2 separate regions of the Homo sapiens genome follow, and region 2 is linked to region 1. Evidence: fine-mapped expression QTL. A gene starts in region 1. The other region holds a variant in brackets. All regions are shown on one strand. Distances are between the middles of the regions.

Region 1 (4,438 bases):
GCCATTGCTGGGGGGAGGGGCAGGGTGAAGGGAGGGCTCAGGCTGAGAATCCCCCTCTCTGCCCCAGAGTCTGAGGCCTGGACAGTGAGCACCAGCCTCCAATCTTCCTCCAAAGAAAGATGCTGAAAGGCCTGCGATCTGGAAGCAGAGCCATCCCAGAACAACAGCAATGGCTCTCTACTTAGGGAAGGGACTTCATTTGAAGTTAAGGAAACTGAGGCCCAGAGAGGGGAAGGGGCTTGCCCCAGGTTCACAGTAAGTCAGTGCTAGAGTTGGCCCCTCAGTTCCTGCCCACCCTGGGTCTGGGTCAAAGCTCTGCTCCTGCCTGACTGCACATCCAACTGAGTAAGCATGGGACAAGATGCTAGAATGCTGTGGGTCAGAGTGGGATAGGGAGATGCAGAGGAGGGGCCAATGATGTGGCCAATCAGCTCTGGAGTAAGGTAGGGAGAGGGGCAGCCTAGATAGGAGGAAGGAGGTGCAGACGCCCCCTCCCTCTTGTTTCCAGAGCCGATGTATGCAGGCCTGCCGTCCTAATCCTGGTTGTTCCCAGTCCCTCCTCCCCTTCCACCTATTGTCTCTGCTCAGACTTCCTTCCTGTCCCTCCAGCCCTGGCCGCCTCCACATCCTGCCTGCTTTGGTCAGGCTGCCGGGAGAGCCCTAACCAGTCCTAATGTGTGGGGTCCCGGCCCTGGGTGGAGGCTAATTGAAGAATAAGGATGGGGATGCCAGAGAGATGAGGCCTGACCTCTGGTCAGGGGTACTCCAGAGGCTTCTGGACTCTCTGCCCACCGGCAGCATGTTCACATGCTGTTCACCTGTGTGTGCACATGCCCTGTAGCGATTTGGCAGTGTGAAATGCCATCCCCCCACCTCTGCTTTCTCCAAGCCTTCCTTTTCTGAGCTTGCCTTTTCCCTGCTCATTCCCTTGGGCTCAGGTCTCTGTGCTCTGTCCCCCTTCCACCAGCCTGACCCCGACCCTGACCCTGGTCTATTTCATAGACCTGTCTCTAATTCTGTGGCCCCTGAGTTTTATCTCTGCCTTGTCACTGTCCCTGCCCCATTCCATCTCAACCTCTCAATTCTTCTTTGTCCCTCTCCTTGTCCCACCCTGTTTTGCTCTCTGTTATTAAGCTTGTCCTTGACTCAGTCTACAATTCTAACCAGATCTTGAGTTGTATCTGTGTCTCTGTCTGCCTCTGAGCCTGGGTTTCTGTCTTCCGCCTCGGCCTAGGCTCTCTCCCTGTTACTCTTGTGCTCTGTCGGTGACCAGGACGCCCTCTCCGTCCCAGCATCACTGCTGGCCTCCCTCTGCCTCTCTCCAGCTGGGCCTCATTCCCAAGCCAGGGCCCGCGTGCTGAGCCTCGGGCCCTGACTCAGGGCCCGGTTTCCCGGTGACTCAGGCCGGGCTCGACAGCACGGGGCTGGGAGCTGAGGTGCTCGCGGGACAGGAGTGGCGGGGGCGGGGCGGGCAGTGGCGGGCAGCGCAGGCTGCGACGAGGGAGGGGGCGAGGAGGGATGGGGCAGAGGCCGGGCAGCAGGAGGGAGGGGCGGGTCGTGGCAGGGATGGGGAGGGCCGCCGGCGCCGAGGGGGCCTGGGAGCCCACGAAGGCCCTCGAGAAGGTGATGGGGAGGAGTCTGGGAAGCAGGGACCCGGGGGGCGCGGGGGTCCTCACCTCACTACGCGGCCGCCGTCCGCTCGCGGGTGCCCGCCGCTCGTCCGAGGTTCTGGGTCCCGCCGCGCCGGCCCCGCCTCCCCTCTGCCCTCCCTCGACGGGCCCAGCCCCGCCCCGCCCGGCCGGTTCCCTCCGCGGGGCCCCGGCCACTCCTTGTGCAAGCGCAGGCCTCCAAAGGGTTTGGGCTTCTTGCCCAACCGCCGCGCTTATCTCCGAGTCTGCCCCCAGTCTGCCCTCTCGCAGGCCGAGAAAGGACCAGAACACGTTGGGACGAAGACAACCTCAGGGAGAGGGACAAAGAGGCAGAGACCGGGACGGAGACTGGGACGGAGGTAGAAACTGAGAAAGGGAGAGTGCCAGGGACGGCTTTGCATCCTCTCCGCTGCTCCCATGCCCTCCAGTCCTGCCAAAAGGGAGGAGGAAAGGTCGAGCCCTAATCCCCCAGGGCACCTCTCCCACGCCCGGAAGGGTGGCTGGACCCTGGCAACCAGTTTAGTGTGGGGACGGAAGCTGGACATCCAGAATTGAGACTTGGCCTGGGCAACAAGCGCAGAGGCCCAGCAGAGGGGTACCCGTCTGTTTCTCCCCACTTCCATCCCCAAGGGCCCGGCCTAGGTTCCTTCGAGGGATGAAGGTCCGCAAGGCACATCCCTACTTCCAAACCAAGGTTTGGGGCTGCCTTTTTGGGACAGGCGGACGCCCTGCAAGCTCAGTGACCAAGCAAGCAGCTGTTTCATTCATGGGAGAAGCCGCCCCTTCTCCCCAACTCCCACCCTAAAATTTCAGGGGGGATGCCGGGGAGGCCTGAAGAGGAATGGCCCTTCTCTCCTTCGCTAATCTTGCCGGAACCCCGGTCCTGGAGCCTGTCTCCCAGGGGCGGAGGCACTTCCCTCTCTGAGCAGGACCAGTGTTTGGGTGTGGGGGGGGGGTGTTTGTGTGTGTGTGTGTGTGTGTGTGTGTGTGTGTGTGTGTGTGTGTGTGTGTGTATGTGTTGGGGGTGGCGGGGGCGCTGGCCGGCTGTGTTTTCCTGTTTGTATGAGAGGAAGTTGGCTGTGAGTCAGCAGACACAGGAACTGTCAGTAGCTAGGGGAAGACCCCTGCCTCAGGGGAAGAAGAGGGGAGTGGGAGGAAGTGGTTCCCACCTCTTCCAGCTGCCTCAGCTAGGGGAGGGACTGTCATCTTCAACCTACTGGAGCCCCACTTTCCCGGCCTTCCCTTTGAGAAAGAGAATTATAGTAATAAAATAATAATTGCAATAGCCATAATAAGGGCTACCAATTATTGAGAGCTGACCGTGCTCCAGGATCTATGTAAACATTGCTTTGCAAACTTTAATCCTCACAAATATCCCTACAAATAGGAAATTTTATCACCTCTATTTTACATATAAGGAGACAGGGAGCATTAAATAACTTGCTCAAGACTCTGCAGCTAGAAAATAGCCAACCCTCCAAGTCTATATCTATAACTACCATGCTCACCTACCACCCTGGACAGGACCCCTGCACCATGTCCTTTTTTTCAGATGGGCAACTGTGGTGGCAGTGAGAATGCTCCTCACAGATCTTACACTGTGAGGAGTGAAATTAACCAATGGCCCCAGCTGCTTCTCTCTGAAATCTAAGGCCAGCTTCCCACTGGGCTGCTCCCAGCCAGTGACAGAGCTCAGCAGAGATCTAAGGCAGACCCATTCCTGGGAGATAGGGGACTCCTTTGACAGCTGACTTTGGATCAAGATTTCCCAATGGCTTTGCTGAACTTTCCTTTGACTGGTGTTTTAGGATGCTCCTCTCAACCTTTATTCCTTCCCTCTCTCCTTCACAGCTCTCCTAGCTCCAGGCTCCCTTCCTCTCTCACAGGCATCTCCCCTAGTCAAATCCTTGCATTCTGCCTTGGCAGCTTCTTCTTTAAGGACTCAGACTAACCCAGCAAAATAAGGGAGCAGGAAAAGACAGTAAAGGGCACAGGGAGTTTTGAGGAATGGATGCCGGGGAGTTTGGGTCAGGGGCTAGATGCAAGAGTTCTGAACCTTTTTGTGCCATGTTCTCCTTTGGCAATACGGTAAAGTATGTGGTCTCATCTCAGAATAATATTTTAAAATGCATAAAATAAAATATATAGGATTGCAAAGGAAACCAATTATGTTGTAATACACATATAAAACCGATGTGATATAGTAATATATGTGCTTCTTTATTAATGCTTTAAATAAGATCTAGTGGTAGGTTGATACCTCACATAACTTTGATGCAGTGATGAGCATAAATGGTATTTCAAAAGATCTGCAATATTGTAATATGATATAAAAATATATGTGATTTCTACTGGTGACAAAGCCATAGTTATGGCTAAAATGACTGGTTTGTTGCTATTGTCATAATTGGAGGAAATGTTAAATTTCAGCTAGAGATTAGTGAAAGTAATATTCTTTTCCCATCCAAGTCCACTGACTCCAAGTTAAGGACACCAATGCCAGATGATGGGGCAGAGCCACAGAGAGGGAGACCTGGCTTCCTCCCTCAGACCCCACTTCCCTTCTTTGGCTCAATGATATGGGGCAGGTGGAGGCTTCTGGCCCCTGGCTTGTGTCTTCCTGAGTTCAAGCAATTCTCGTGCCTCAGCCTTGTGCCTCAGCCTCCCGAGTAGCTGGGATTACAGGTGCCTGCCACTACACCCAGCTAATTTTTGTATTTTAGTAGAGACAGGGTTTCACCATGTTGGCCAGGCTGGTCTCAAACTCCTGTCAGGTGATCCATCCACCT
Region 2 (4,000 bases), 24 kb before region 1:
GAGATGAGAGATCATGGTTAATGAGGTCAAGACGTCATGGAAGCAATGGGGTCTGTGGTCACAGGGTCACAGAAGTCGGGGGCAGGGAAGCAATGAGATTGATGAGAGTATGGGCTGTGGAGTCAGAGGGTGGGTGCAGTCATGGCTCCTCTCCATGGCCACCCAGCATCCCACACCTCTGGCCCCAGGGCCTCACTTTCTTCTCCTTGAGCAGCAGCAGGCAGCGGCCACGCAGCAGAAAGAACCTCTCCTGGAAGCGGCTTCCCAGCAAGCGAGGTGGCTCCTCACGACACCGCAACAGCCCCACCCGTGGGCTCTCACGTCGGATACCTGGGCATAGATGGGCAATCCTGGGTGGAGGATGCTAGGGGAGAGACCTGGGGGATGCTGGGCAGAGGAAGGAGGCTCACCTGTGAAGAGGCAGCCAGCTTGGGCCAGGGGGACTTTTTTCAAGAGCAGGGAAGCTGAGCAGGGCTCTGGGAGCTGGCACCATTGTAAAGCCTGCTCTAAGACCTTTTCCTTGGGATGCAGTGGCCGCTCTTAAGGGGAAAGGTGAGGGTTTATATATCAATCAGAATATCCATACTAAGCCCCCAGCTCTCACCAGTCATTCATTCATCCATTCAACTATCCAACCACAGACATTTATTTTTCACTGTCTCTATGCCAGGAACTGTGCTGGCCCTGGGATACGGTGGTGAGCATGATACACATGGCCTCCCTTCACAAAGCACACAGTCTAGTGAGGGTACAGACAAAAAAATAATTGCAGACAAATAATTGCTTTGCAAGAAACAATAAACTGAGCAAGCAACAGGACAGCAACTGAGATAGGGTAGTCAGGCAAGACCTTTCAAAAGTGGCACTTGAAGATGAGACTCAGAGATCTGAAGGATTAGGAAGAGCAAGCCATGCTAAGATTGGGTGGTAGAAGATTTCAAGCATGACAAAATGCAAGAACAAAGGCTGGCAATCAGGAAAGATGTATTTGGGGAACTAAACAGCCAATGTAGCTACAGCAAAGAGGATAGATACGAGAACAGGTGATGTGAGATGAGGCATGGAGGACGCAGGGGTCAGACATTCAAGGCCATGTGGGCCATGGTAAGGGACTGGAATGATACTTTAAGTTCAATGGGAAGCCACTGAAGGGTTTTAACCATAGGAAGGATATGAGCTGATTTATGCTTGAAATATTCACTTGGCTGCTGCATGGAAAATGGATTGTAGGGAGGCAAGCATGGAACATTGTCCAGCTATCCCCTTTCTGGGGCCACACATTTTAGTGGTTACTGTTGACAGACAAAAACATAATGATGACTTCAACTAGGATGGTGGTAGCAGTGGAGATGGAGAGAAGTGATTGATTCTAATGGAATCGACAAGACTAGTTGGTGAGTTGTGTATGAAGATGACACAAAGGGAGGAGTCCCAGAGGACTCCCAGGTTTCTGGCCTTAATCACTGGGTGAATTGTGGTACCATTTACTGAGTTGGGAAAAATTGGAGAATGGCCTAGGCTTTTTTTTTGAGGAAAGGGGACTAGACATCATCTAAATTGGTCTTAGATGTTTTACATTTGAGTTGCTTGTCAGAAGTGGAGGTGTTGAGTAGGCATTTGGATATGTGAGTCTGGAGCTGAGAGGAGAGATGTGGGCCAGATATACAAATTTGGGTGTCAGGTTATTAATGGCATTTAAAACCATGAGAATGGGTTAATTCATCCAAGGAGAAATGTAGATAGATGAGAGAAAAGGGCCTAGGATTGAGCCGTGGGTCTCTCCAACATTTGGAGTCTGGGCAAAAGAGGAAGAGAAGCTCCCTTTAAGGTAGAAGGTAAACTACGAGCTTGTGGGGGTCACTAAGGCCAAGATGGAAGAATACTGAGAAAGAGGGAGTGAGTCAACTGTGTTGAATGTCCCCTCGCATGGATGAGTGGATGAGTCATCCATGAGTTACCATTCATATTTGGTAACATGAAGTCACTGATGACCTTGACCACACAACCACACACACGCATATACACATGCATGAACACACAGGCGTGGTCATACTCACCCAGCTCCCCATGCTCGCGAATCTCAAAAGTCACCCACAAGTCCATCCCAGCTGCTGTCCCCCGCATCTCCAGTACCTGGTTAGTCAGCTCCTCAGCAGTCAGGGTTGGGGACACCTGGGGTCAGGGCAAGAGCAGAGAATTCATGCTGGTCAGGCTATTGCCCCTGGAACCTCACTATCCTCTTATTTCCCCTCCAGTCCCCTCAGGACCAACCTTCAGGGTGACACAGTTGTCTGGGAGCTGCTGCTCTATATAAACTTCCATGATGAGGTCTCCAGCCTGAGACAGCTGAGGGGAGGGGTAAAAAAGTCAGAAGGGCAAAAAAAGGGTGCAAAAGACATCAAAGTCAGAGGGTTCCTCGTGTTGCCTCATAAGTGACTCTTCCAACAAAGGTCTCCTCCCAACCCCAATGTCACTCAGG[C/A]TCTTAAAAGGGAGACCTCTGGGAGTGGCAGAACTGCATCTTTAGGCTGCACATGTACTTCCCAAGGCATCATAGTGGTTGGGAGGACAGATGTGGAGTCAGACTGCCTGGTCTCTCTGCCACTCGCTACAGGGTGACCTTGAATAAATGACCCGCTGAACCCGTTTATTTGAAAAAAATGAGATTACCTACTTCATGGAGTTGTATCATACTAACATGAGATTAGAGATGCTTGGAATATAGTAAGTCCTCAGCTATGTTTGCTATTATATTTATTATTATTATTCTCACTGCTTTGTCTGACTTTACTAACTCGTCCTTGGATCTCTTACACTTAGTAGTATGGTCTCACTTGATGTTCCCACAGAAAACCAAAACCAACTATCCAGTGCCAAGATTATCACCAGGAAGAATCCTCATGGTGGAACAAATGGAGCAAACCCTAACCAAACCCCACTCCCCAAAGCACTTCTCTCATTGGGTTCCCCCTGTCTCCCAAAGAGCTGAGTGCTAGTGTCCAGAAGGACAGGCTGGAAACTTCCTCAACTGGGCAGAAAGTCAGCTTCCTGTCCTGATGTCTCCTCCTGCCCCATTCAGGAGACTAAGGTCAGGACGAGTTACCTGCACGTCCTTCCAGGTGGTGATAAGACTGACCTCCAAGTCAATCTGAGCTACCTGGTCAGAATCGATCTGTGAAAGAGCCAAAAGAGAGTGTTGGGGTGCTGGAAGAGGATCTGCCGGGAAGATCTCAAGGCCAAGGAGGACCTGTTTAAGAGGGCTGGAGGCCAGAAGAGCTAAGAACCAAGGGGGTGAGGATGTTGGAAGTGAAGTTGTGGGAGAAGAAGGGCCAGGGCTCTGGGAGGTAGTTCCTGGTATAGCTGGCCACCAGAGGCCTGGGCTGGGGGCTTGTTGGGGTGATCAGGATCCAGAGTCTCTGGGTCCTGCAAGGGTAGGGGAAAGGGGTTGTGGGTTAGGGGTCAGGAAAGCCTTACATCAAAGACAGAGATGTAGCCATCAATGAGCTCTTGCAGCACTCGCACCTCGTGCTCCCCTCGCCCATCCGTCTGGAACACGCTGGGTGCAAACAGCAGAGCCAAGTTCCGCGTGCACATCTGGTTTAGAGCCGCACATTTCTGCACCCTGCAGAGGGGTGCCACGGTCTTCATCAGTGTAGCCACTCATTCAGCAAACACTTATTGAGTCCCTATTGTATGCCTGGGCTAAGTGCTTGGAATACAGCAGTAAGATAATATTGGCCTCAAGGAGCTCCCAGTCTAGGGGAGACAGATAAGGCAAGAATCAGCAAACTTTTTATGTAAAGGGACAGATAGTAGACATTTTAGGCTTGCAGGACAGACAGTCTCTGTTCTAACTCTCAGCTCTGTTGCTGCATCATGAAAGGAGCTATAGAAAATATATACATGGGCCGGGCGCGGTGGCTCACGCTTGTAATCCCAGCACTTTGGGAGGCCGAGGCAGGCGGATCACGAGGTCAGGAGATCGAGACCATCCTGGCTAACA

What was found. PIP is the estimated chance that this variant, and not a neighbour inherited with it, causes the effect.
Region 2: its variant is the best candidate, but not a certain one, in a credible set for the expression of ARAP3 in whole blood (TOPMed, PIP 0.56).

The regions. Positions count from the first base shown.
Region 1 is chr5:141,680,497-141,684,934 of GRCh38, forward strand. It overlaps ARAP3 (ArfGAP with RhoGAP domain, ankyrin repeat and PH domain 3), which reads right to left and starts at 1,734. Exons shown (of 33, transcript NM_022481.6): 1 at 1,677-1,734; 2 at 1-7. RefSeq lists a silencer at 1,734-1,783.
Region 2 is chr5:141,656,308-141,660,307 of GRCh38, forward strand. It overlaps ARAP3 (ArfGAP with RhoGAP domain, ankyrin repeat and PH domain 3), which reads right to left. Exons shown (of 33, transcript NM_022481.6): 22 at 3,472-3,619; 23 at 3,101-3,169; 24 at 2,272-2,346; 25 at 2,058-2,172; 26 at 411-539; 27 at 197-330. Among named protein-coding and RNA genes, the nearest start is that of FCHSD1, 6.9 kb to the left of the region's middle. RefSeq lists an enhancer at 1,555-2,754. The variant C/A (reference allele first, on the strand shown) is at 2,480.